2 separate regions of the Homo sapiens genome follow, and region 1 is linked to region 2. The links come from fine-mapping of genetic effects on gene expression. A gene starts in region 2. The other region holds a variant in brackets. All regions are shown on one strand. Distances are from middle to middle. Region 1 overlaps MYH15 (myosin heavy chain 15). Region 2 holds the start of MYH15 (myosin heavy chain 15).

What was found.
Region 1: its variant is fine-mapped to the expression of MYH15 in lung (TOPMed, PIP above 0.99). The same link has a PIP of 0.9 or more in sun-exposed skin and unexposed skin.

The regions. Positions count from the first base shown.
Region 1 is chr3:108,403,621-108,415,905 of GRCh38, forward strand. MYH15 (myosin heavy chain 15) reads right to left here. Exons shown (of 41, transcript NM_014981.3): 30 at 10,612-10,808; 31 at 6,963-7,312; 32 at 4,660-4,784; 33 at 1,718-1,833. Among named protein-coding and RNA genes, the nearest start is that of MYH15, 100 kb to the right of the region's middle. RefSeq lists enhancers at 3,207-3,306, 3,367-3,426. The variant C/T (reference allele first, on the strand shown) is at 3,147.
Region 2 is chr3:108,502,450-108,519,989 of GRCh38, forward strand. MYH15 (myosin heavy chain 15) reads right to left here and starts at 8,147. Exons shown (of 41, transcript NM_014981.3): 1 at 7,994-8,147; 2 at 3,274-3,380. The coding sequence starts at 8,081.

The DNA.
Region 1 (12,285 bases), 100 kb before region 2:
GGGTCTGGGCTGGTATTTGTGATATTTTGTAAGATAAGCTCATCTTTTCTTTCTGGATCTACCTATTATAGTTATTATGAATCATTAACTAAAATTTATGAATAGCTCACCCCCCTGCCTCCAGTCCACCCCTTCTTTTCTCAGCTCCTCATGGCTCATGCTTATCCTTCAGTTCTTTCTTCTTCCAGCCCTAGCTCTTTGGATCTCTGGCTTTTTTTCGCACTAAGATTATTATAATTGGTGAACTGCTCTACGACATTCAGATGTAGCTGACGAGACACAGGCTCTCTGAGGATTCATTTCTCCTCAGCTGGGTTTATTTATAGGCACAGGTCTGATATTACTTGAAATCAGTGTTATTTGTTGCTTTTTTTTTTTTTATCTGCACAAGGAGACATTCATTTTTATTCCTTGTGGAAAGAAGTAGGGCAAATATCAAGGCCCAGGGTTTTTGCCCTTCATCAAAAAAATTCTTTTAGACACTGACTCAGAACCTCTTAAGTAGATCAGAATTCCTCGCCACAGTCAGTCCTGTAGAAGAAAATGCCAGTGAGTGAGAGCAAAGATAACTCAAAGCACATAGAAGGCCAAATTTGGCTTGACACCCTCATTAAAAAATTGACCCCCTTGAGAGTTTTGTCTAAAAATGGGCTGTGGGAAAGAGGTCAGTTCAATTGAACATGTTAACAGGGTTTTTTTTCTTTTTCTTAAAAAAAGACTGTTTAACAAATACATTGAAAGTAAGTTGCCAGTTGAATCTCAGGCTCAAATGATTTTTCTTGCTGACATATGGCATTGACTTAAGGGAACAGATTAGATAATATAATCATCGTTAATTCCATGTGTTTATAATTGTGCCTTTGATCTACAGCGTGTGAAGTGCTTTGCCAACATCAGCCTACTGATCTTCCTCACCACCTTCTGTGACATGTAGGGACTGCTTTTATCCCCTCACTTCACTGAGAAGCTAAGAAGTGGAATGTCTAAAGTCATCAGCTTGTTATGACAAAGCTAAGAAAACATTCTGCAACCCATGAGTCCTGTCTAATTCAGTTTCCTGACTATTAAGACTCAGCTGCTTTAACAAGGATTCAATAAGCAGCTTAGCTCTTGGCTTCTGCTCCTCTTCAAACAAATGGCTACAGGTACAGGCAGGGGGTATGTGAAAACTTCACTCTGGTCTGAAAGTACAGCACTGAATTTTTTAATTTTTTAATTTTTTTCTCCATGGCTCAGCATTTTCAGTCAATTTCTTAATGCCCAAGAACGTGGCATTATAGGGACACGCAGACAGTATGCACAGTCCTTATACATATAATCATTTATTTGGTGTTGTCTTGAGTCTCACATGACAGTAGAAGCTCCTCAAATATAAGAAAATTATAAAATCTGGCAATAATCGTATATAGATAGCTAGTAAGCTCACCACTATTGATATAAAGGAATATCTGTACACAATTGTGTATAAAGGGATATCTAATTGTGTATAAAGGAATATCTATACACAATTGTGTATAAAAGGATATCTAATTGTGTATAAAGGAATATCTATACACGATTATAGATATTGTATATAAAAGAAAATAATATAGAGTTACACTAAGTTTCTTTGGTAATGCTCCAACAGGGGCCATAAAAGCAGCCAGACATAATGAGCTCTGTTTAGTCAAGGATTCAGAAATACATAATTGTTACACATCAAAATCATCTTAAATACCTAAAATTTTCTATTTCTTCATCTTTCTCTGAAAGCTTTCTTTCAAGTTCTGCTTTAGCTTCCAAGAGTTCAAGCTGGAAATGAAGAATCTTGCTTTCATTACGTTCCAGGGCTCCCTGGAATACATAAATAAAAAGCATTAAATGAAGTCCACTTTTAGACAAAATTGTATTTTTTACCCAAAACATATGTCGCTAATGTAGCTCTCTTAGAGTTACTGGGAGAGATATAGGTTCAAGCCAGGTCCCTAGAGATTGCAACACAGTGAGACAAGCAACTGCTTTCATTTGTCATTTCACTTATAGATTTGACATTCTTAGGTCTTTCAGCTGTAGCTCCAGAACTAGAATTTTAAAGCCTATTTTAAAATAGAAAATTTCACTCTTGTCTGTGACTATATTTAAACTTTTTAATGTATTACCCTTGACTTTTTCTAACATATTCCAACTTTGGGATAAATTTTAAAAAGTATCAGAGCTAGAACAAGGAAGGTGATAACTCCTACCTGGAATCTTCTATTAAATTCTGGACATCACGAGGGGATAGAGGAAAAGTTGGATGTATTCAGAGAACAAACAACAGGGTAGTGTCCAAATATTGTCATATGAAGAACAAATAAAGGAATTTACAATGTACCTGACATGTAACACTCAGTGTGAGCCATTAACACCATAATTGGTACCACTACTGCAAATGAATTTCTTTGACAGGCAGAAGATTCCTTGCCCCTTTGTGTATTCAAATATAGTTAAGGCAATTATTTGCAGGGATGTTATAAAGGCAATTCAATTCTAAAAGCATAGGTTTGGCTAAATCTTTAAAACCCGTCCTGAAGCTAAAAATGTATATAAAAGAAGAAATCCAAAAAACACTTACAGAATACCAAGGATATAAGGGCATAAGGGGTGATGCAATTTTGTGGTCAGTTAGCTACAGGCAGTCCTAAGGGCAGAAGTAATTTTTTCATAGCCTCTTTTGAGGCGTGCTTAGCAGATATGACAAAATGTAAAAAAGTAAAACTGAGTTGCAATTTTAAAATAAAAATAAAAAGATGATGGGAATTTTAATAAGACCTCCCTTGATGTTATCTTGATACTACCTTCAATATAAAAGAAAATAAAATTGCTAACGCACACTCAAAAACAAATGCTTGGATAACAATTTCCTCAGAGGGAATAGTGTAGTAGTTCCTTCAAGAGGAAACTGTCACCTCTAACCCTCTAAAATGCACTGAGAAAGTGAATCTTTAGGGAACATGACCTGGGATAATGTGAGTTTTATGGCTTTAAAAAAATCTGATAAAGTTTCTCATAAAGGCTCACCCAGGAAAATAAATAACGCAATGTTACAAATACATGTCCAAGTTGATGAAGTATTTATGGATGTGGCTGAGGACAGAAGTGGAGAAAATGCGAATAGAATGTGTTGC[C/T]ATCTAGTGGTACTAAGTGGTTTGAGCATTATGGCCTTCCTGTCATTCTCACCCTTGACCCACGTGATGATCGACTGAATACACAAAGATGCCTCTGTGTTATACAGGACATAAATGGCCCGTGCCAGTTGTATTTTTCATTGGCTTGTCATAGTACTTGAAATTTCTATCATAAAATTTACTTCTTTCAGTTAAGGTGGTGGCTTCAAAAAGTCCCTTGCCAGGATAGCCAGAGAACCAAAGGGAACGAGTAAACAAAACAAAGTTCACCAACTGTGTAAGGACCAGCTGTGCTACAGGGCACCACACTGCCAACGAAAAGGAGTCTGTATAAAGTTAGATAGCCTCAGGAAACATTTATGTATAACAGGGTGAGAGCTGCTGCCTGACAACTCTATACAGAGGGTAATATGGACACATTTGCTTGGAAGTTTCTTCTGGAATCACAACGGTGAGGTAAATTTAACAGACAATGCTTGGCACAGAGTGGTCCTTTGGGGTCTTGTTTTCCATCGCCATACCTTCCAAGAGACCCCTGCCTAACACTGACTGCCACACCTTTCAAAAATCTTTTTTCTTTTTCTACTGGTGGGAGGATCAGGGCTGTATTTTAATGTGTCTGAATACTTGTTCAAAGGCTGAGTCAGGAAGATGAAGTTCAGCTCTGAGAAGAGGCTGCACAGGGCTTCTTAACCACCTAAGAATCATGATAAGATGACTTCCTTGTTAGTTTACCTTCTTTGGCGAAATGTCTTCTTAGAGGTCCTTTCAATTGCTAATGCACACCCAGAGATACAGCCAGAGACTTTTCCTGAACTGTGAATCCATAACACTGAAAACCCTCCTGTCAATCTGCACAAAGATGAGCTTTCAGAAACAAATGTTTGACAACATCACTTTGAATCTTATTTCTGAAACTACCGAAAGTTTTTGGGGAAAAAAAATTGAAAAGCTTTTGTGACTGACTCTTTAAAGAGGGGGCAGCTATGAGAATATTTATTCATTCAACATTTGACAAATATTTACTGAGCCTCTACTACATGCCAGGCAATGTTCTAGGCCAGTGCTTCTCAAATATTAATGTGCATATGAACCACCAAGGGATCTTGTTAAAATGCAGATCCTGATTCAACAGAGATGGGCAGAGGGCTGAGATTCTGAATTTCTAACAGCCTCCCAAGCGATGTCCATGGGCCACATGTTGAGTAGTGAGGGTCTGGGCACTGGGGATAAACTGGTGAACAAGATAGATAGTTCCTGTTTTTACTACAATCAGGAGATTTGCATTCACTGTTGTGTATCCTGCTCTCTGAGTCTCAATTTCCTCTTTTATAAAATGGGGACAGTAGTTTCCTACGGTGATTATATTAAAATTATGCATTTGGCAGAGTGCCTAGCATATAGTAAATAAACATTTGAATACGTGTCCTTTTGTTGGTGCTGCTGTTATTGCTGAATGCAGATCTTCTGCCTTGTCACAGTGAAAACTTTCTTTTCTCCCTGGTGATAATACCTCTGTTTCTTCCAGTGTCACCTGGACTTCTGTCTTCTCTTCTTCAATTAGTTTCTTGACCTTTTCCATTTCAGTTAAGTTCTTGGTCCCTTCTCTAACCTGGTTTGTCAGATTAGAAATCTCTTCTGGAGACAGAGGTAAGAAAAACAAAGTTAGTGAATGGGCTCAGTCTCAAACCAATGATACCAGGCACAACAGATTCTTCCAGCCCACTGGAACAGTGACCTCATGCCACCCTTGGTAACTTGATGACCTATCCTATATGGGACCGAGAAATTTTAAAAGGGTATTCATTTTTTCATATAGTCTTTTGCCATCTGAAAATTGAAAATTGTCTACAACAAATGGTGAGGGTGGTGCTTCAGAGTATTGTACACTGGACAACTTTTGCAACTTTTACATGACAGTCCTGCTCATTAGAGCCATTCCAGGTTCCACCTGGAGGAACACAGACCTGGAGTCCCTACCCTTCCAGTGTAAGTGCTTAGCTATCAACATTAGTGGCTGCCATTGTTTCAGCCACCACTCAACACTGCGACAGGAACTTAAAGTAAAAGCTGGATCAATATCTGCCAGCATTCAAGGCATGGCCCCAGATAGGCCAGAGAATCAGAAGGGGCCCAAGGAAGACAGTGGCTTTAGCTCAAGCACTTGAGTGTTTTTTCCTAGCCTCTCATGAACATAAGCCTTTGACAAACAGAATAGGGCATCCAGAAGTCACAAAACCTCTTCCACCTGATATTGTTATGGTCAGTTCTGCCTTTAGTACCTAAGAGGTGTGGTATAGGGCCAAGTAGCTCAGAGAATTACCCAGTTCAGAGGTGGTGGAAGGAGCTCAATAGGTCACCTGCTCCTCTGGTTCTGAGATCCTGGGCTGTGATGTGATATGATGAGAATTTTTAGAAGTTACAAAGACAAATATGTTAGATGGAAATTTTCATTGCATAATAAATTCTTCTCTGAGAAGTGCTCTCCTAAAGATGGGTTATCAAGAAGAAAATCAGGGAAGAGGTTCTCAACTCTGACCGCACCTTAGAATCACCTGGAGAGCTTTGGAAAAAGCTCACTCAATATTCAAACCCCGCCCCAGTCCAAAGGTGGTGCCCAGATCAGCAGCACCGGCCTCACCTGGAAAACTGTCAGAAATACAAATCCTTCAGACCTACTGAGTCAGAAACTCTGGGGGTGGGCCCCAGCCATCTGTGCTTTAACAAGCCCTCCAGCTGGTTTGGACGTAGCTAAAGTTTTCTAACCACTGTTTTAGCACCCGTCACGTCTCCATCTAGTGCCTTGATCATAGACTATGTAGGTCAACAGAAAGTAAGCTTCATTTACGCCTCCAACAGTAATGAACTTGCTTCCAGGGCATCTCAGGGTTTTCATGCACATTGCTGTTGGTGCTGGGATAAGTTGGCAGCCTCTTTGAAGGGCTGTTTGGCAGTAAATCAAAATTTAAAAATTCATTTCATTACCCCAGCAATTTCTTTTCCAGGGATCCATTCTACTGAAATATTTTTACATGTGCATAAATACATGTATAGGGATATATAATGTAGGATTATTCATATTTGTGAATAATTGGATCTAAAATGAATAAAGTCTAGTTAAATGATAGCCATCTTTATTACAAAACACTATGTAGCTATTAAAAAGCTTATGGTAGGTCTCCATGTACAGGCATGCAAAGACCCACAAGGTACGTGGGAAGGTTGCACAGCTCAGTAGTTAAGTGCGTATATGCTGGAGCCGTGCTGGCTGGGCTCAAATCCCAGATCTGCGACTTATCAAATGTGAATTTGAACAAGTTACTCAACTTATGACCTATATAACCTTCATTTTACAGATGAGAAAACTAACACTAGACTATTCTGAAAATTTAACAATAAATAGTTAAACAGTGCCTGGTACGTAGTATGGGCTATAGAAATATTCATTAAATCGGGAAATATATTCATATATGAAAAAAAGGTGTAGAACAATATGCAATTTGGGTAAAAACTACACACTTGAGTATAGCACACATGGAAAATCTTGGTACGGTTGTGGATATCAAGAAATTTTCAGCACTGGCTTCCTTTACAGAGGGGAACTGAAGTTAAAGGTAGGAAACTAGTCTTACTTTTAGAATTAATTTAATACAAACAGCATCTAAAGTAAAAAAAAAATAAGTCAAACAGAAGTATAAAAATTGAAAAGTTAAAACATGTTGGGAATGTGAAAATGCTGAAGACAGCCTTGCCTGTAGCCAGGGCTCTTCCTGAGCTACCCGCTCTGGCTTTGGCTCTGAGCCCAGCTCGGTGTACCTTGGAGGTTCTTGTTCTCCCTCCTGAGTGTCTCCTGGCCCACGATGCTCTCCTCATAGGTGTTCTTGAGCTTGAGGAGCTCTGTACTGAGAGCCTGAACTTCCTTCTGAGAGGCATCCAGCAACGCCTGGGACTCCTCGTGCTTCTGCTTCCAGTCGGCAAGGGCCTTGCCAGACTGCAGCTGCTTCTGGTCCAGCCTGGCTGCTGCAGAGCGGACCTTCCCGAGGTCAGACAGGGCGTCCCCGAGCTCCAGCTGCAGCTGGTGCCTGGCTCTCTCCAAGGAGGCATTTCTGGCATTGGCCACCCCCATGGCTTCGGCTGCCTCCTGCAATCTAATTGCCAGTTCCTTCCTGAGAAAGGAGGACACCCAAAGAGTGAGTGAGGCAATAACTCTCAGAGAGCTCATCAAGTCTGCCCTGGATTAAAGATAGAGCTTGGGTGCAAAGTAAGATGGCGCCTCTGCAGTGGACTTAGTGGTATAAAGCAACAGCAGCTCCTATCTGAAAGTGACCTCACTGTCTATGACCACCATCCTCTGCCTCCTGTGTGCATGGGGTCTTTATTTTCCCCCTTTGCCAACCTGCACTTGGAACTCAGAATCTCTTTGAATTCCTACAAATATTTGCTTATCCTAAAGCTCTAATAAGCAATACTGACTTGATTATTTCCTAAGAAGGGGGAGAAAAGGAAGATTGTACTGAACACCCTACCAACAGTAAGCACCTTACAAATCTGTAGCCATATGTAGTCACTAAAGAGCTCCTTGGCTGTGTTGCTTCTAAAGAACACTCTCTTGCTTTTTCCTGCTTATTTTCTCTCATCATGTGGCTCCTCAACATGACACAATTCTTTCTTCTCTCCGAGTTTGTTCTCCACCTCAGCTCCTCTCTCCAGATTTATATTCCCAAACCCATCTCATTATGCTCACTTAACAGGTCCTACTGTTCTTATGGGGTTTTTTAGCCCCCATCTGCTGTTCCTTGGGCATCTCTGAGATGGAGTAATTTATTACAGTGCTTCTTTCTCCACCACCCCCGTAATATGCTACTATTAGGAATTCTAATGGATGAAATGTGTTCTGTTTCTTACATCTCCTGCAGGGTTGCTGGCAGTCCCATTCTTACTCATTCATTATACTTCTTAGATGAAAAGTACTGTATGTACCAAAGCTTTTTCTCATCTACTGCTATTAAACAGAAAAAAAGGTTCTCCGGAATTAATAGGACTGCATAACTAGCCCAACAGAGGAATGTGGTAATAAAGTCCCCTTTTGGTGGAATCCTGCAAAAACCCCTATGTGCTCAGGATCCAGGAAGCATCTAGGCTCTAACAACACTCTGCCCCCGGCTTCCTAGCCATACTCACTTCACTTTTCTGCTTCATGTTTCTTAAACGTTAAGAGGATATTCTGATGCTTTACCTGACTTAAGGCAGTAGGAGTCAAGTGAAATAATTACATATATTTTAACTACTTTAGAAATGCTTGTTGATAAAATAGGAGTTTCACTTTGGGTGACTGATCATACTGGACTGCCTGGGACTGAGGGGTTTCACCAGGTGATATGGTTTGGCTGTGTCCCCACCAAAATCTCATCTTGTAGTTCCCATAATCCCCACATGTCATGGGAGGGACTAGTGGGAGGTAATTTAATCATCGAGGCGGTAACCTTCATGTTGTTCTCATGACAGCGAGTAAGTTCTCATGAGATCTGATGGTTTTATAAGGGGCTTTCCCCTTTTTTATTCACTCACTTCTCTTCCTGCCACCATGTGAAGAAGGACCTATTTGCTTCCCCTTCCACCAGGATTGTAAGTTTCCTGAGGTCGCCCCAGCCATGGTGAACTGTGAGTCAATTAAATCTCTTTCCATTATAAATTACCCAGTCTTGGGTATGTCTTTATTAGCAGTGTGAGAACAGACTAATACACCAGGACATGAGACTTTCAAAGCTAAAACAGGAAACATCCAGGGCAAACTGGACAAACTGGTTACCCTTGTTTTACCAATAACTTTGTTCTACGTTTAATATCAACTACTATTTTGCTCCTTAACTTGCCAACCATAAGCACCTACTTAGTTATCTCGAATATGTAAAGGGATATTGGAAATTAAGAAACTAAATCCTTATCCTTGGGGAACTTAGAATTCAGAAGCAGTACAATGGGTCTTAGATAAGCTTGAGTCTGCTAAACTAACTCATCATTTGAACCCCAGCCTGGAAATCAAAGCAGGCAAATCTTTAACTTTAATAATAACAAAAGAAACCAGGACCCTAGATTGTTTTGTAGCTGCCTACCTCCCTGAGGTGATTTAGAGGAAAAGCATAATACAGACAAAGTTTTATTTATTCTATGTCCCACCAATTTGAAAGTAAAAAATTGTCTTCACAGAGTACCATGTTTGCCCTTTATTTTCTTTAGTTATTACATACTACAGAACTAGTTCCAACAAACCCATGTGGTCATAAAGTAATCTATATTCTTTTGCTCTTTCCTACCCAATCCCAAAAGAAACCATCAAACAGAATGATAGATAGGCAATTTCACCTGAATTCTTCAATCATTAGAAGGGGGAAAAATCTTACTTCAGAAGTAAATACCATATTTGGATATAAGAGGGCATCTCAGTTCAAAGCCAAAACTTTCTGTGGTCCAGAGTTTTGATAAAACATCTACTGCAGGTATTTTTAGTATCTGTCATTCTAAAGCCCTTTTTAAGTTACTGTGGGTACAGAGATGGATCACTTGGTACCCCTTCTGGGACAAAACACAGCAGCTGTTCAGCAATTGCACAGCAATGCCTCTCAAAGATTTAGGTGAAGAACTGAAAAACATTATTTCTGGTTGAAGCTAAAGAGAAATGTATTGATCTTCCCTGGATTTTTGCCAAGCTACCAAGCCAGGGACACATTCTTTTGAGTAAACCTTGAATGATTATAAGCTGGGGTTTGACAATTTCTCTTAAAGGTACAGTTTCCTGGCCTCTAAGCAAAATGCTTCAGTTCTATACCCTGGTACTGAGTCTCAATTCAGCTGTGCCCCAAACTTGTGTAACTCCTAAAAACTTTTAAAACCTTTACATAGAAATGGCTATAAAATTGATATTCTAATCTTAGGGGTGGCCTGGGGATGATTTCTTTTCAAAGCAACCTTTGTCCTAGAAGACATGACGACAGATCCTAACATTTTTTTCCAGCTTCCCTGTCCATCTTCACAGACTACTTTGTAGTCTACAAGTTGTAGACCAGGGACACAACGACTTTGATGGAGACACGTACACACATGGACTCAATTATTATGGCGTTACAAATGAAATACAGGGTTTTAAACGATAGCCTATTTTCACACCACGGCTCAAAGTCACATCTTTTATGAAAACTTCCCTTGTGCCCCTAGAAAGAGCCTCCTTTCTCTCCCCAGGACCTCTTTATAGTCTCTGTCACTTTGTATTATACTTTTTATATTTTTAGTCCCTCTACAGAGTGTGCTTCTTACCAGCAGTGCACGTTTCAGCTTTGGTTTTGGGCTTGTTCCTGCACTCGGCAAGGATTTGTTAAGTGCATACCATGAGGCCTTGGAGACAGAGTCATTATTCTCATACTGCTCCATGTGAGTAACTCCAGGTTAAGGATAGCCTTGCCCTACTCACTTGGCATCCTCCAAGTCTTCTGTTCTCTGGATGACATTGTTTTCATACTTCATTCTCCATTGCACCATTTCAGCATTGACTTTGGATAAGGTCCGGTGCAGCTCAGCCTTGACCTCTTGTTCTTCCTCATACTGCTCTCGTAGAAGGTCACAGTCACGCTGAGCCTTCTGCAGGGCATGGGCCAGGGCACTCTGGGACTGTAGGGGACACACATTAACAAAAAGGTCATGACCACCATGAGCAACACAAGTCTTGAAAGTAAGCTAATTTTTTTTTTAGGTAAGATTAATAACAACCTGCCACAAATTCAAGCCGAACCTGAACCTAGTAAGATAACACTAGGGAGAGAATTTGAGACAAGAGAAAGGATAGATAGTATCTAATTGCTGCCATTAAAACAGGGAAGGGAATTCTATTTAGAGAAATGCCAGCTTGGCTCTGTGGACTTAGACAGGCCTGGAATTCTAGAAATAGTGGAGAATGCAAGGATAGCAAAGAGAACATTCACTATCATTTAGGCAATAAGATTTATATTTAGCAATATATTAGACTCAGAGCTTGTTTGAACCAGAAAGAACCACTAAAATTTAGCCTTTTTATTCCACTGATGAAGAAAATAAAATCTTTTATTTCACACTGAAATCTCTAAAAACCTCAGCTCCTAATACTTCAAAATAGTACTACTGCCCAACAGAACTTTCTGTAATGGTGAAAATGTTCTCTATGTACACTGTCCAATATGGTAAACACCTAGCCACATGTGGCTACTGAACATTCAAAATATGCCTAGTACAATGTGTGATCAAAACTGAATTCTTAATTTTATTTAACTTTAATATAAATTTAAATAGTTACCTGTAGTGTAGTAGAGGCTTCTATATGTATTGGACGGCCCTGCTGGGTTTAATAAACATTTTTATCATTTAAATGGTGATCTGGCTAACCTAGCAGCATTATTCCCCAGAGATAATCTAGTGTGGAAAGAACACTAGATCCTGACGGGTCCTCAAGTGTCCTTTATGCAAATTAGGAAAAAAGCACATTTTCAGGAAGATACAGCTCTGAGGGCACAAGGTTTAGTTAATGGCAGCCTCAGCCAGACCCCTTTGGGTGGTAAATGAGGAGCCACAATACACAATGACTCTGAAAAGGATGCAGGCTTTGGAGTCAGATGAACTTGGGTTCAAACTGTGACCTCTCCTCTTGTTTAATTTTATTTTTCTTTAAAGGAAAAACTTTTAAAACCTTTATGTGGCATTTACATGGCATATATTTAATTATAGAAGTAAACAAGACAAAGACAAAATCCCTGCCCTAAAGAGCCCAAAAGAAATAAGGGGATACACAAAATACACAGGCAAATACATTAATAAATAAAATTTCTAATAGCAGTAAAACAAACACAGCAGATAAACACGATCTAGAATGTTTGGCTCCTTCTCATCATCCCTCTAAGACTTCGGTGAAGGGCCTTTAAGCAACGGGAAGGGCAGTTATAAAAGTCCTAAGGCAGGAGTGATGGTGCCTGGTTTAAGAGGCAGAAGGGAAGCCAGGGCAGCTGGAGGGGAGTAAATGAGGGAAGCAGATGTAGGAAGTAGGTCACAGAAGGAGGCTGGAGCCAGATCAGGGGGGCTTGTAGGCCAATTGGAAGTCACTGGGAAGGCAGCCAGAGAG
Region 2 (17,540 bases):
ATTTTTGATGTTGTCTTCTTTAATGAAGTTCAAAAACTTGCAATGCATGTTCATTTTTGATGTTGTTGTCATAATAACTATAGTTATTAAATATAGTTATTAAAGCACCTATCACAATGCTTGGGATATAATAAATAATCAATAAATATTAATATATTGATTAATATGGATGCATTTCTACTATCAAAGTTTCTTGGGATTCTTCTCACAGGTTTCCTAACACCCTTTCTATAGCCCTTTTCCATGATTAATACATATTTGTGTCAACTGATTGCCCCATTTAATCCCAGTTGGTGATGGCTTCTTTCCAAGGCTCTCACACTCTTTACATTCTTGATTCAATTTCTATCCATCTGTCTTCTTTGACATTGTTCTAACAGTAATCCCTCTTCTTTTGAGTCCCTTCACTTTCTGTATTTCAAGGACTCATCTCCCCTCAAACCCATGCAGAACGTAAACATATCTCATACATCTTCAAAAACCTCCCCTTTTCCCTAATTCTATTTTTCTATTTTTTTCATTTCCAACTTTCATCAATAAGTAGTACTTTACACCCACTAGATTTATTGCCTTTGCTAATGTTACAAAGACCATTGTAACATTGTGATTGGAAGTGTAGTCACTTCTAACATGAGGAAGAGGAATCCTGGAGCCAGGGAGATAGTGAAGCTGGGGGAATGGGACCTTCATTACATCAAAGAAGGACAAGCAGGACAAAATAAACCACCTTCAGACTCTTCTTTCTACCTGCATTAATGGCCTTTTCTTCCTATGGTTGTAACCACATTATAGTCACAAATCACCTTAAGTGCTGTTGAAGGGACAGTAGTTTGTTTTGGAGAATGTGCTCAGAAGAGCAAGCCTCACATCTGGAGGCCTAATAAAATTTAGTTGGTCATCATTAAGAAAATGAAAAAATACATAGACTGAGAGAAAATATGTACAAATAATACATGTGGTAAGGGATTTGCAACCAGAAAGTAAAAAGAACTCTTACAACTGAATAATGAAGAGGCAATAGCCCAATTTAAAAAAATGGGCAAAGAGCTTGAATAGACATTTCTCTGAAGGAGATAAACAAATGGCCAATATGTACATGAAAAGATGCTCAACATCATTAGTCACTGGGGAAATGCAAATAAAAATCACATTAAAATACCACTTCATGCCCAATAGAATGGCTGTAATCAAAAAGAAAATAAAATGTGTTAGTAAGGATGTGGAGAGAGTTTAATTCTTATATGTTGCTGGTGGAAACGTAAAATGGTAGCCACTTTGGAAAGCAGTATGGAAATTTCTCAAAATGCTTAGTATAGAGTTACTATATGATCCAGCAATACACTCCTAGCTATACACCCAAGAGAAATGAAAACATGTGTCCCCACAAAAACTTGCACATGCATGTTCATAGAAACATTATTCATAATAGACAGAGCATACAAACAACCCAGTGACAATCAACTGATGAATGGATGAACAACATGGTATATCCATATAATGGAATACTATTTATCCATAAAAAGGAATGAAATATTTATTCATGTGACAATGTGAGTGAACCTCAAAAACATTATGCTTAGTGAAAGAAGCCAGAAACAAAAGGCCACCAATTATATGCTCCTATTTATCTGAAATTGCTAGAATAGGCAAATCTATAGAGTTAGAAAGTAGATCAGTGATTGCCTGGGGCTAGTGCAGGAGGAAAGAAGGGGGAGTGACTGCTAATGGGCACAAGATTTCTTTGGGGGATCTTTTCTAATAAAATATTGTCCCAAGGCTAAGTGACCCTGATTGAGTCTATTTCTTAGTTTACTGATTTAGGACTAAGGAAAATTTCTTGCTGAATTTTCCCTTGTCCACCTATTTATGTTCCAGTTAAAAAGCACCAAGTTCTTTTCTTAATTTCCTGAAGAGTTAAATAACATCTACCTAATTTGAGATTTTTTTACGTAACAGATATTGACTGTCAGGAAGACATATGAAAGCATTCTATGTGGTAGTTTATGAGTGGCTTCCAGAATTTTAAAAATCAGATGGCAACATGTTAGATCGTAAATTGCCTAAAAACAAAGATAGCATTAAAAAGACAAACTTTCTCGATATCAATAATATCTGTTTGTTACAGGATGTGGCTTGTTATGGATTTGGGAAAAGGAAGAATTTAAAGGAGTTTAGAGAAGTGAATATTGGCAGGGAATCATCTGTAAAATCTATAAGGAAGAGTTCATTTAAGTAGGACAGAAATGGGGCCCGGCTTACACCACGGGGTGGCAGGTAATGTGAAGTCAGCAATGTAGGCAAAGGTTCTGAGAGTGAGCTGTCTTCTCAATGTTACCCTGCTGCTCTGAATGCCTTGGTGGCAGGGAGAAGGGGCTGGCGGGTATTATGGCTTCACTACACATTTCTTCTGTGAACCTTACAGTCTAGCTTGTACCCCAACACTTGATATAACCTTTTCTTACAAAGGTCATAGATGACCTCCTAATTCTGAAATCCAAGACTTTCTCCAACTCTTAATCTTCTTCTGTGGCATTTGTCATTACTGGCCATTCCCCCATCTCTTGGCTTCTGTGACACTATGCCATTTTTACTCAAATTATACATCTCATTCTTGATCCTACAAACACAGCTTGCTTCGTGGTTCCTTAAGTCATTATTCACCCCACAGGATACCTTTTTTTAAAAATACTGACTTGAAACATTGATGAAAAAGTAGAAATGGCTGTGAGTTCTAGTCAATAATCCTTGCCACTGGCAATTGTTTTACTCTGATTTATTCACTGTTCTTCATTAAATCTTTGATGGTAAGTGGAGTTTTTTTGTTTGTTTGTTTGTTTTTGGTGACAGGATCTCACTCTGGTTGCCCAGGAGTGCAGTGATGTGATCTCTGCTCACTGCAACCTCGACCTCCCCAGACTCAGGTGATCCTCCCACCTCAGCCTTCCAAGTAGCTGGGACTACAAGCATGTACCACCACGACTGGTTTATTTTTGTATTTTTTGTAGATACAGGATTTTGCCATGTTGCCCAGGCTGCTCTCAAACTCCTGGGCTCAAGCAATCTGCCTGCCTCGGCCTCCCAAAATGCTGAGATTACAGGCATGAGCCATTGTGCCCACTGACTTAAGGAGGAGCTTCTTAAAATGAATGACTCCGAAGTGAGTCAGTGGCATCTCCTACCCCAGATCTTTAATTAAAATATTATAGAAATAATATATTTAGTTATTTGATAGAGAACATAGTCATCACTGCAATGAAATAAAAATTTCTTTACCTCTCCATCTGCTGTCTCAACAATTACTGTTCCATCATCTTCACTCCCTTTTACCTCAGCCTCGATATAAGCATTCTCACCATCAGGAATCCAGCATTTCTTCTTCCCTGTAGAGCAAAAAAAAAAAAAAATGGATTATAGCTATAGTACTTACAGAAATACATACTGGACACTTTCATACTGATAGATCTAATCTCATTTCTGCTAAATCAGCTTGTTGACTACAGGAACTTGCAAAGTCAGATAAAATCATGAAAGCTCATTCTGAAGATACACTCACTCACATAATGGCACTACAGGAACAAGAAACATCTCAGCAAGCAGCAGCTTGGGGGCACCATAGACCATTTTGCTACAAGAAAGTTACCTCCCAACACCCCTCCCAACCCCAACACTTTCCTCCACTCACACCCCAGGACTTTGGTGGTTGCCCTGGTGCTTGCACCCCTTCCAGATTCCCTCCCCCGAGAAAACTCATTCAGAAAAAGTCTGGGAACAACTAAGTGAAAATTTAGATTAATGGTTATGTTCTTCAGGGTTTCTTTAGACCTTATTTCTAATCTTGGAATGGAAATCAGCTAAGTGAATTACATGGTGGAATTGGCAGGGGGGCAGGTTGAGGAGAGAGAATATGGGTTGTTTTTGTTAAACAACATAACCGGCTCATATTATTTCCCCCAATATGTTATTTTTCTCTCTTCAGCGTCCTCAGTTCCTATACCCCATCCCTAAGCAAAGTAGCCCTCCATAAACTGATTAACCAACAAGAGGTCTGGGGTGAAATGAGCCAGAACTCTTATGAACACCTGAGGCAGCTTCTCTTTCTCTCCCAGTTGAAGCAGATAGACAGTGATGATGAATAAAAAATATGATTTTAAGGGCCTGGGTGCAGTGGCTCATGTTCATAATTCCAGAACTTTGGGAGGCCAAGGTGAGAGGATCTCTTGACCCCAGGAGTTCAAGACTAGCCTGGGCAACATAGCAAGACCCTTTACTCCCCCAGTCCTGTCTCTACAAAAAACAAATAAGGCAGGGCACAGTGGCTCACGCCTGTAATCCCAACACTTTGGGAGGCTGAGGCGGGCAGATCACGAGGTCAGGAGTTCGAGACCAGCCTGGCCAACATGGTGAAACCCCATTTCTACTAAAAATACAAAAATTAGCTGGGCATGGTGGCGTGTGCCTGTAATCCCAGCTACTCAGGAGGCTGAGGCAGGAGAATCACTTGAACCAGAGAGTCGGAGGTTGCAGTGAGCCGAGATCGTGCCATTGCACTCCAGCCTGGGTGACAGAGTGATACTCTATCTCAAAAATAAAAAATAAAGAAATAAAAATTAACCAGGTGTGATGGTGCATGACTGTAATCTTAGCTATTCAGGAGGCTGAATGGGGAAGATCACTTGAACCCAGGAGTTGGCTCATTTTCTTTTAAAAGCATATTATATATATGTGTGTCTATGTATGTATATGCAATATATCATACTTTCCTTTTAAAGGAAAATGAATATATATATATATATATATATATATATATATATATATATATATATATATACACATATGAAAATGAGCCTTAGTAGAAGCTCACAGAAGTCCCCAGGTCACAGCTACTCAGGTACATGGGGAAAGCCTTTGGCTGAAGGAGGGAAAATGTTAGCCAATGGCTAGGGAAGACACAGGTGAAAACCCCACTATAACCACAGCACTAACAGGTAATGCGAACTCAGTCACCAACCATCACCTCCAATATATGAGTCACAAAAGCTAGAGAGGGCTCACTGCCGCAGGACAGGTGGTCCTTATTTCCCAGAGGAAGGCAATAAGACTGGGGAAGGAGTGTGTACAAAGGAGCTGAAGTTGGGCACCATTTGCCCCTTCTTCCACCATGCTTGTTTCTGCAAAGAATTTGGTTGCTCACGACTTTCTTGCTATCAGTGCTGCCTTCTTCGTTTCCCTGATTACAAACAATTCACCACTAAAACTGCTTGGCAAGAGGAGTTTATGTTCCCATCTAGCTGATTGTGCATTTGCTTTCTACTTATCATTTGTGTTTTAAATACTGGCTTTGCATTGTATTCATTATTTTGGTCCCTTTTTGCAAAAACTGATTTTGCTTTGTGTTATGTCTATGAAAATATGCTTGTTTTTGAAAAGCACCCAGTTAGCATACATTTTGTGTGTGTGTTTAAGGTAAAATGCTCTGCATTTTAAACCAAATGTTATCACTTGAAAGAAACTTGAAGGTCACCTGGCACAGTCTCTCTCCCTCTGTCTCTCTTTCTCTTTCTTTTTAGAAAAAGAACCTTGGGAGAGAGATGAAGAGAGTTGCCCATAGTCACATAGCTAATTAGTGGCAGTCACTACAATAATGACTCTAGAAATGAGATCATCCACCTCCTGAATCAGTGCTCCTGCATTACAGCCTGCCTCCTCTAACACATTCTTAGCTTTTTCTCCTCCAATTCTTCTCTCCAGGAGTAGGCTCACCACCTGCCTCATGATGAAGTCTCTCTCTTACCACCCCTGGAAACACTTAGTGGGGAATAAAAATTATCAGAAATCCTTTCTCATAGGAGACCCAAACCCTGACAGGGACATTTTAAAAAATGAAGTAAATGAACTCTGTCAATTTTAATTCCTGGTGTTCATGAATAATGCAGAGCTGGAAATGTAGATAGCAATGGATTTGAGGGAGGCAGCCAGGATTTTAACACTGGCTTTGCTGGTAAAAAGATATAAAGCCACATGACTTCATCTCTTTTGGCCTTCGTATTCTCATCTGTAAAGTAGGCCTTTTTCTATATGATTCCATTTTTTAGACAATTAAATATCTTTTCCAATATAAAGCTAATATGTGCTTATTGAAGAAAACTTGAAGAATAATGTATGAAGAAAAGAATGTTTTTAATCACCCATAATCAAACAACTCAGAGATAACCACTGTTATGTATTGAAGCATTTCTTTTGAATCTTTTTTCTAGGATATTGATTAAAACAGGGGTAATACTATATTCAGTCTTATAGTTATTTTAAATAGATCGCTTACATGTTCTAATATAAGAATTATTTACATTTGGCTTTCGAATGGTGTTTTGTCCTAGCTCTACAACCACCTGGGCTTCTTCACTGTCACCCAGGAATTCTAGTTTTCCTTCTCGGGTATCATAATAATGCATTATATTTATTTTTCACATTTATAGTCTCATTTGGTCCCCACAGCAATGGAGGAAGGCAGACCGGACAAGTATTATTATCTCCTTTGATACATGAGGAAACCAGGGCTCAATAAAGTGAAGTGATTTGCTCTAATTACCCAGCCAGAGATGGTCAAGGACAGGGAATTTGATCCCAAGACTACCTGCTAAATACTCGTCATCACACTACTTCCATTTGACCCGAGTTCAAAAAAGCAAACTCCATTGTCTACCAGCCTGGGAAGATGAACAACTTTTGCTAACACTTGTCTCTGCTGCCAGTGCATTTCTATGAGGAAGGATTGTTTGGTCCAAAAAATTAACAGGAAATTATGTAGATTGCTATGTTTTAAGTAATTATTTATGGTGCTGATTTTAATAAATGCATCATCCAATTATCTCTAATGCTTAGGCTCAATTTTTTTTTCTTCCTGGCATCACTATTATCTTGTCCTCCATTATCTAACTACCTGCGATAAGCCTCTGCATGACCAGTTCTGACCTCAGGGATAGTTCTGTTATCGTATTTGATTTGATGGATTATAATTAGCCTAAAATCCAATCACAGTCATGAATCCAATGACTGGAAACTGGGAACTGATCCAGGACTGGTCTGTGATGGAAATATAATATCCTCCATAACTGGCTTGAATTATAATTGGTCATATTAAAGTCTAATGTTGACTAATTCTGAATACTAGAACGACATTCAGCCAGTCCTTATGTTGCACTGCTGAATAATTTTGGATTAAGACATGTAGGTAGCTTCATGTTATATCATACTGTGAATCTGATTTCTAAATCTCCAATTAGCTGAAATTCAACACAGACATGTAAAGGTAGCAGGAAAAAGAATAACATTTATTTAGAGATTTCAATGTAGAACTTAGCCTTTTTTTTTTAAGGCTAAATCCTCATTAACCTTTGTCCTTGCCTGTAACTACCAAGGAATTATGAATCAGGGTGAGCAAGTCTCCTAATTACCTTTTGCTTAGTGTTGGCTGAGTGACCCTGCTGACCTAGAAGACCGCTAGAGGCAAGGCTCCAACATCAAAAAATTCTGGAGAGCCAGAGACAACTTCAAAGTCTGCAGCCTTACCAGAGTCTTTCCCTTTCTTCTTCCCCACAATGTACAAACCCCACCCACCAGTCTAAGTCACAGGCCCCTCTCTCTACTGTGGCATTCACTGATAACTAAGAGGTTTCTAGGAAAGGCTTTGTCTGGCCATTCCTGCAGGTGTCTGTGTTACAACAGGGGCTCCTTGAAGAGAAAATCTGTCTTAGGATCAAGTGTGTAGGGCCCGGGCCTAGACTGCCTCCCAGCCACCCTCCTCTTCTGTGGGTACTTCCATTCCTACCCTGGATACTCAGAGGCCCTCAATTGCTCAGTTTCCTAGAGGCTGATCATACCCTAAGCAAATAAGTTAGGCTCTAGAACTGATGGCTCTTCTCTGTCAATCAAATATCTTAGTCACCATCTTGAAGGAGCAAAATAAAGTGAAGCCAGCAACCACCACATGTCTCACCATCCAAGGCTGTGGCCTGTAGTAGAAGCAGCTCAGCTTCACTTCTTCTGAGGAAGGCTGCGGCTTCTCCAAGGTCTGACAGATCCATCTTTATTAAAGCAATCCACCAAAAAAAGGCCCTAAACGTGAGTAGGCAAGATTCAACCTGAAAAAAAAAAATTGATACAGAGAAGAAAAAAGTGGAAATAAGGCATCAAGCTCTAAATGAGCAACCATTCACATAGATAGACTAAAGAGTGTTAAGTTTTCCTGTAACTACCTGTGCCCCTTCTTTCTCTTCGCTATGTCTCAAATTTATACAAAATTGGACTCAAGAATATCTGACTCTAGCAGGGCTGACTTACCCACTAGACATAGAAGGCACAGTGCCTGAGGCCCACAATGCTTTTAGGGGCCCATGAAAATGTTTAATTTATTTTTAAATCAGAAGAAAAATATAAAAGTAATATGAATGATACATATTAATGAACAGAGCCTGGATTATATTCATCTTTAGGCCAACACAGTTATGAAATCTGATTTTTAATATTTTTTTGTGGAGAAATGGTCCTTAAAAGACAGAAGTGCCTGTAGTCAGTGAAAGTCATAATGCCACCCTGCGCCATGGAGTTCTGACAGGTGGTAGGATATTCCAGATGGAGAAACATCAAGTTGCGGACACTAGGCCTTTGATAGGCGTGGAGGGGGGTTTCGAGGTATCTAATTACCCCCAAGCAGACAGACCGTTATAGACAGAGTATGGTTACAAAGAGAAGTGATTCAGATAAATGTTCAGTAATAGACAGTAAAGGGATAAAAAGATAAGTATCTTGGCAGAGATAAGTGTCTGGGAGCAAATGATTTACAAAAATACAGGCACAGCTGGGCATTTGGGAGGCCTGGCCAAGAGCAGTAATGAAGAAGCCCAGGCTGAAGGTGGCAAGCAGGTTACATGGTGATGTGAGTGAAGCTGGAATAAATAAAGAAGTTCATTGGCTCAAGCAAGGCAAGTATCAGTCTTAGAGGGACTAAGTTGCTGGACAAATTACCAAGGCTGAAGTCACTGAGCACCCACTGTATACCAAACACTGGACATAGTTTATCTTTAATTTTCACACTTTACATTTGATAACAGGGAGAAGAAGAAATGGAAACTGGGCCTTCATGATCTTAAATGAGAAGCTATTCTCTCTATTTGGACAAAAAAAGTCTTCCTCTTCACTCAAGCATGCAAGGCAAGTGTTACTCATCACATTTATAGGTAAGAAGGTAGAGAAGGACTTGCCAAGTTTGCTTAGCTCAGGTGCTGTCTTTGAGGACAGATCAGCACCCACTTCAGAATGAACTGTAATCACTTACTATCTTGCAATGAACAAATCCAATAAACTAATGTATTTTACTGCACTTAATCTGCTCTCTTCTTTGTGGTGGCTTGGATAGGTATAGTGATACCACTTGTAGGATCTAGTTTAAAGGAGTATGATTTAAAGCAAAGCCTACTGGTTCAGGCTAAGAGTTAGTTTTATTTCTGCCAGCAAATAGGCATGTGACTTGTGGGAAATCACTTAGTCCCTGTAGATGCATTTTCCTCACCTATGTAATGCAAGGACTAGTCTTAATGTATAGGAACATTTCCTAAAGTGGAGAGAAGAAAAGATGCTCAAGAGAAACAACATAAATGATGGCCCTCCAGAGATGCGACTGAAGGCAGCATTTCTCAGGGAAAAAGACAAAACTGATTTTTCTGCGGGTGAGCATTCAGATTCAGGTTTTGTAATCATTATAACAGCAATAACATTGTTAGACATCTGAATATAGAAGAACTCAAGGTAAAGGAAAGCTCTGAAAATAAGGCAGAGAAATTTAGAAATAGATGGTAGGAAACATCATCAACTCTGTGGGCAGGAACATGAGGAAAGCAGTATTTTGGGAAAATGGCTCTGGTGGCATATTCTGGGTAGATGAGGATGAGGAAAAGCTGTAGTCAGGGAGACAAGTTGTGAGTCTGGATTTGTCTGGGTCCTCCTCCTCTCTGTATGTGTGACTTCCTAGTGGCTTGCACTCAGTAGACAGTAGAGCTTGGGAAGTATATTTGGAATATAAAAGATATCCATTAATACATGTGTGTACAAACTTCCTGAAACATACCTAAGAAATGGATGTCTGTCTGAGTAGTGAGAGAAGGAGATGGGTGGGAGAAGGAGAGAACTACCTTTCATTTCATTCCATTCTAGTCTGTCAATGTGTGCCATGTGCTTATATTTCATAATTAACAGATTTTTTACAAGTAGTTCTTATTATAACATCAGAGATGAAAAGATCACAGCAAAACAGAGCACACAGCTGTGTAACTCTCCTTCCAAGTCTGGAGCATTTAACATATTTAAAGGTGTACAAAGAACAGAATGTGTAGGAGCAGGCACTGGAAAGTAGGAAACATTAGGTGCCAGGAGTGGGGCGGGCCTGGCAACCATTTGGAGATAGGTAACTGAAGCCAAGAGAATGATTCACCTGAGCAAAAAAAGGATCGAAATCCTTCTATCTCCTTGGCCCCATCCAGCTTCCATTAACCCCCTAATGTCCTACTGACCTCTGGGTCCCTTTAGGTTCCAGTTGCACATATGGCTTTACAATTTTATAGAATAACACACTTGTCACAGCCCAGTCCTAGCAACATCTTAAAATAGAAAATGAAAGAGCCCGAATGCCCAAAAGAAGTAAACAAATTAACCTTGCCAGCAAAAGAATCAGGAAGCTATATTTTGTGAATGACAGAGAAACACAGATGAGTATAGAACTGAAGGTAATTCTCTTAGAGGAAAAGTTCATCTACATGTTGAAAGGAAATTATATTTGAGACTGGTATACTCACACATGTTTATCGGAGAATTCTGACACCATGATAAACAAACTTGTATCTGATACTGCATATATTTACAAGACAGAAGAGAGCAGGGGGCAGCACTGGAATCCTGGAAGGAGAATAGGAAAGGATAGGGCAGACGGGCTGCATGCACAATGCTGGGAGTACCTCACTTCTAGGACCTAGCTCTGCCTTTGAACATTCAGGAGCTTGATTTATCAATACATACTGATTAGGTTCTGGGAATCACATAACTATGCTCAGAAGTGTGCATACAATTCATCACCCAAACCTGGACCTATTTTTTCTTACTGGGATTTTTAAGAGGGGATGCCATTAATATTTAAATCAGGACAACAAACTTAATCTAAGACTGACCCAAGTGAATAGGGACATATGGACACTCCACTAATAAGAGAATTGAGGACTTGAGATGGCAATTTCTAAACTGACAATGAATGTACACATTTTCCATAACTGCAAAGTCCAGGTTACTTGTCTGCATGATCCACAGGGCACATAGACAACGTCATCACTATCAGAAGGTTGGATTCGGAGAAAGACATTAGATCATCATGTACATGACATAATTCAGTTTGTAACACAGCAAAATAATGCATCCTGTTCTGTTCTAGAGTTCACCTTTACAGGGACTGAGCACCATATAAGCCATCCGTATCCTGTTTATATTGATACGGCACAATTTCCAGGTGTATCTTAGTTACCAGTTGATAAAGTAAAGACAAAGAATGGGAAGCCCTTACTGGGAAGGGAGAGCTGAGATGTAAGCTTTTCCTCTTAGCCAAGAAAGAATCATGTTGGTCTGACCTAGCTGCCTTTCATAAAAAATATGTTTGAACAGCTGCCAGCTGAGACAAGTCACGAGCCCAGATGACCAACCATCCCTGTCTTCCCGGAACTGAGGTATTTCCCAGGGCTTGAGATTTTCAGTGTGAAAACCAGAAAAGTCCCAGGAAAACTAGAACAAGTTGGTCAACCTACTTTTAAGTGTAGTGCCTGTAGTTCTTTTAGAAATTCAGTCACAATTTTGGAAATTAGCTATTTTTATACTGGTTGTATTTCTGCAGCTATCCCCCTCTCCCTCCTCAGGTATTTTGCAAACACCTTTTTTGAAAACGTCCTTTTCAAATATACGTTTGAATATATTCATGCAATATATATGTATTGCCCATCTGTAATTGCCCATGTTAGGCCCAGGGGTACAATAATGGGCAGAATAAATACTGTGCCCTCTTGGAGTAATAGATTTGAATAGGGATAGAAGTTTCTTCTGTCTTGAATTATTATGCATTAGACAAATCTGTAGAGAGAAATTTTCACACTTTGGGGTGGGGGGGTGGAGCTGGTCATATGGCAAAGTTCAGAAAAGAAGCCCAGAGGGGGACTGTAGCAGTGAAGGGAAGAGGTAAGCTTATACAGCCACGACTCCTAACTCACTAGTCTGAATGGAAACTGTAGGCAGAGTTATGTTTTCTTAAGATGAGAAAACACGTTCCTCACATTATTGTTTCACAGGCTCTTTCACTGTCTCATTCTCTGCCCACCATTCCAATGGAAGGGTCTCATCCTGGAGCCTCCTAATCCCCTAGGATAGAACCCTTGGAGGCATCTCTAATTTTCCTTCTATCTCATGCCACATTCAATTCATCGTCAACTTTTATTGATAATTAATTTTATTGATAATTAATTGTATAATTACCAGTTCTTATCCACTTTTAGACGACACAGTTTGGAGTGCCTGTTGAGCCCACACTCCTATTAGAAGTGCCTGCTCTCATCCACAGGAATGAGCCGCAAGTAGCCATGTCTGTAAGGTGACACTGGTGTCCTGGCCCAACTTATAAACCAGGCTTCAGTATCTGATCTGGGACAATCAGAGACAATCAGGGTATCCCCCTGGAATACAGATTTGGGATTTAGATGCCACTCTCCATCTGGGCTCTTTGCTTGAATGGAGTGATGCAAACTTGAGGGTTGAGGTTGGCATTGTGGTGTGGTCACATGGTGCCACATGCACGCTAATCAGCAAAAGCATCCATAGAGAGGGAGTCACAGGGATGAGGAGAAGCAGCAATAAGGGACCAAAGGAAGAGAGAGATCACTTTCTTATATCTCAAAGACCCTTCCTGGTAACAGTACCTCCTGAGACCTATATTTAATTTCTGCCTTTGATTTCCATAAGCGCTCTCAATGACCTTCCAGTACATTCTAATTTCTTTCCCAACTTTAAATAATCTGAAGTGAGTTTTTGTTATTTGCCATCAAAATATCCTTAACTAACGCATTATGTCTCAGTCTCTGTCCCAACAAAGTTTCTTAGTTTCTCTCCTAAGATGATGTGAAGATTGTGTATAAAACTCAGCACATTGTCTGGTGCATAGTAAAACCTCAATCACTGTTAACTGTTCTTTTTACTATTCAACAAGCATTTATGCAGTCTTTGCACACTGTGCTAAATATGTAAGACAGTAGCTTTGCTTTCCAAATTGCTTATTGAATCTGAGATGTGCAAAATCATAATGGAGGATGGTACCATGGGGAAGTAAAGAGGGAAATTCACATAGTGGCAGCTACTAGCTGAGTAGATGGAGGTGAGACAAGGGAATTGTCTATTTAGATGGTGATCGCTCCTGAAAGGTCACACTTTCTAGTCTTCTTACTGCTGACCACAGTAAATCTATCACTCAGCACTCATCTCTTTCAATCAGAGCTAGACAATAAATATGGGGATGAGGGGGTGCAGAAATTCATTTCACCTTGGCATTTCAGTGCCTTAACTATAAGCAGAAACTCAAATGATGCCTATGAAGTAAATTGTTAAAAGAGTTAAACTCTTTTCATGTTAGCAGTCCTGACACATTTTTAAGTCGGTTTCATCATAATTGATTAGATTCGCTTGAGTTCTTCATCAAGGTACGTTATTATGCATGTTTACTTTCAAAGCCTTCTACTGCTGGGAAGCCATGATGCAAGTAATAAGAACAAATATTAATATTCCTTTGAGTAAACAAACACTAAGCATCTTTTGACATAGCCTCTTCCATTATTAAAATTGGAGACAATGCCTGAAAATGAGAATGGATTTATCTAGATGTCAACAGCTGAAGGGAAGAATTATCAAGCACTTAAATGATCCCAAACAAGCTGAAACATATGTCTTAAGGCAGTAAATGAAACACATTTGAGTTACAAGGCCCAGTGAATGCCACAAATCTGGGGAAATGCTGCAAGATGCTCCTAATTAGGGACACTACTAGGTAGACAAATGATGCTGCTGCTTCCTAGTATTCATGCTGCTGGGATAATCATGTTATGTGCCTTAACTGAGCAAGGTTTCCTCCATAGAAAATCTTAAGTGGTTAGTCTTTAGGCACACATCTACCACCCCTTAACCAGCTACGCTACCTGCAATTTATTTATTTATACGCAGCTTATTTCTCTACAAAAGCAGGGGTTTAGGCAGGTTTATCTTCTTCAAAGAGGAATGTTAAACGGTTGAATTACAAATCAAGAGTATTGCACAAATTATTGATTATTTAAAGCATTTACTTCAAAGGGTGATTATTATTACAGCTATAGGTCTCCAGGCAATGGAGTTTACACTCCTAGATTCTGCTCCCCGCTCCCCTCCCACTGGGATGTGGCTTTTCCTCCCATCCCTCCACAGAAACTGTTCTTTCTAATGATCTCCTGAAGAGAAATCCTAATTGTGTGCTTTTCAGTCTCTAATCCTACTCAACCTCTCTGCAGCATTTGACACTCCCTGGTTGCTGGGGTCCCTTCTTCCTTTTCTTCTCTTTCCCAGTTGTTCATTTACTAATCAAAGGTCCATCCACAATACAAATTGTGAGTATCATTGACATTTCTCTTTTGCTCCCTCTTTTCACTAGTTTCTATCTCCCAGCGTTTGCTGGCTCTTTAATCCTTTCAGAACTACCTTCTCCTACACTTTACTACCTCCCAATCTCTGATCAAAATGCTGGATCTCTGCACTGAGCTATTCGCTATTGATCCAGAGAAGAACTTCTGATTAATTTTTTTTTTGAGACGGAATTTTGCTCTTGTTGCCCAGGCTGGAGTGCAATGGTGCAATCTCGGCTCACCGCAACCTCTGACTCCCGGGTTCAAGTGATTCTCCTGCCTCAGCCTCCCAAGTACCTGGGATTACAGGTGCCCAACACCATGAATGGCTAATTTTTGTATTTTTAGTAGGAATGGGGTTTCACCATGTTGGCCAGGCTGGTCTTGAACTCCTGACTTCAAGTGATCCACCCACCTCGACTTCCCAAAGTGCTGGGATTACAGGTACCCACCACCATGCATGGCTAATTTTTGTATTTTTAGTAGGAATGGGGTTTCACCATGTTGGCCAGGCTGGTCTTGAACTCCTGACCTCAAGTGATCCACCCACCTCGACTTCCCAAAGTGCTGGGATTACAGGTGTGAGCCACCGCACCCGGCCACCTTCTGATTAAATTCTGTCATGCATTCATTTTAAAGTATGTCCTCTTAGGATCTGTGGATTAAAAGAGTAATAAGACCTCAAGAAGTTTCCACTCTAATGGACATGGACAACAGAGATATAATCAGTGACTATAATTCAGTATGATAAATGCTAGGTGCTAGGATAGAGCAATGTACAGGGCCATACAGGTCAAGGAGGCATAACGCTCTCATCTACATTTGTATTTTTAAGAATAACAGTTTACAACTTAAAGGAAGGAATCTCAAACATCCCTGAAATGATACCTTTGGAAACAGTGCCAATATACTATTTAATAAAAGCAAATCTGAGTTCTGAGTGTGTATCACACACCAGGAACTAGGTTAAGTGTTTTATACATAATAACTCTTTTAACTTTACAGTAGCTCTATGAAGGATATATGTAATAACCTTTATTATATGAAAACACTGAGTCTCAGAGAACTAGCAAGTGTTATCTCTAGTTTTAAATCCAGATACATTAAAGTCATTCTTGTTTCCTACTTTGTTCACCTTTACATCCAATCAATTGCCAAGCTCTGCTGACTCTTTCTAAATATCACTCAAAACCATCTCCATCTTTCCATCACCCCTGCCAACATCTGGATCAAGGCCATCATCATTTTTCTGGGGGCGTATTGCTGTATTCTCTCAGTCTCCCGACAGCAGCCAATCCAGAATGAGGCCCCCAAGTAGAGAAACACAGTTACTGTACTATCTTATTTAAAATCATTCCGCATCCTATGATAAAAGCCCAACATGTTAACAGAGCCTATAGAGCTCTCCATCCTCTTGCTTGACTGACACCCACACCTCATCTCTCTTGCTGTCTCATCCCCAGGCCTGACCTGGCTGGGGCACTACTAGTAGATGCCAACAGCACTCTCTGACCTCTGGGTGTTCACACGTCATGTGACCCCTGCCGGGAACATTCAGCCCTGTCCCTCATCTGGCTAATTCTTAATCATCCTTTGGGTCTTCAGTAAGCAACATTTCTACAAGAAGGTATTCTCTAGGTTCGTTCTGTCAGCTAGATGTGTTCTTAGATTTCTTTGCTACTTGCATCATGATAATTTTCATCCTATTTTATTATTATTTGTTTAATTGCCCATCTTCCTAATGAAACATAAGTAATCTGAGGGCAGGACTAGGTCTGCAGCACTCAGAGAAGACTCTAGTTCTTTGGGTAGAGCATTAATAAACACGTAGGGAATGAACCAACAAATAGAGCAGACCCATCAGTCTGACTCCTGAGTCCTTGCTCTTAAGCATGATGCTATACTTCCTCCTTGGCTGAGCTCCAGCCAGCAAGGAGGCTGATGTTCTTGGTTAGAAAAGCATCTAACCAAGATGCAACATGTCCATACAGGCAACATGTCCTTGGTTTAAAAAGCATCACCACTTCATTTTTAAGTTGGATGAGAAAAATTTAGATTTGTGGTTCAAAAGAAGTATGCTAAGGATAAAAATCAACTGGTATACCATATCAAGAAAACCAGACTGGTAAGGAAAGATTTAAATAAGTAGTTTATTTTTAAAATAAAGGTATTTAAGTCAATACATCTGAATTGTATTGCTCCAAGATTTTTGAATCCATGGAGTCTTAGAACTAAAAGTTCTTTAATAACAGCTGGCTCATTGCTCCATATTTTACAGGTGAGTATGCAGGGACCAGCAAAATACATGATTGGCTCACATTCACCAACCAATAACAATGGAGCAGGCTGAAAGTATGGATAGTTTTGAGCAGAGTTGAGAGAAAAATACTGATGATAGCTCTATGAAGAGAAACTGAAGGAAACTAAGATCGAGGGCTATACTTTTGTGCTTCAGAATTCAAGGCAAATATACCCTCCTATAAAATACTAGGTAATACCACAGTCAACGGAATAAAGATTAGCTGAAATGGAACATTGTCATGATAATATTCCTTAGGGTCAGTGACCCACGATCTGCATAATAGAGTAACACTTACTTTAGAATTGCAGGTGCTGTTATTCAGCACAAAAGACATGCATTAAATATATTTAGTGATTCTAAAAGATGATATATAAATTCAAGGTATTAATAGCATTATTTTCATCGATTTATTGGTTTCATATTTTCTGAATGTTCTTAACTCAGGATAATTATGAGTTTTAACTAAGTACAATTGTAGTCAACATCTTTGCATAATAGATATTCAGATACACTTATCTAAA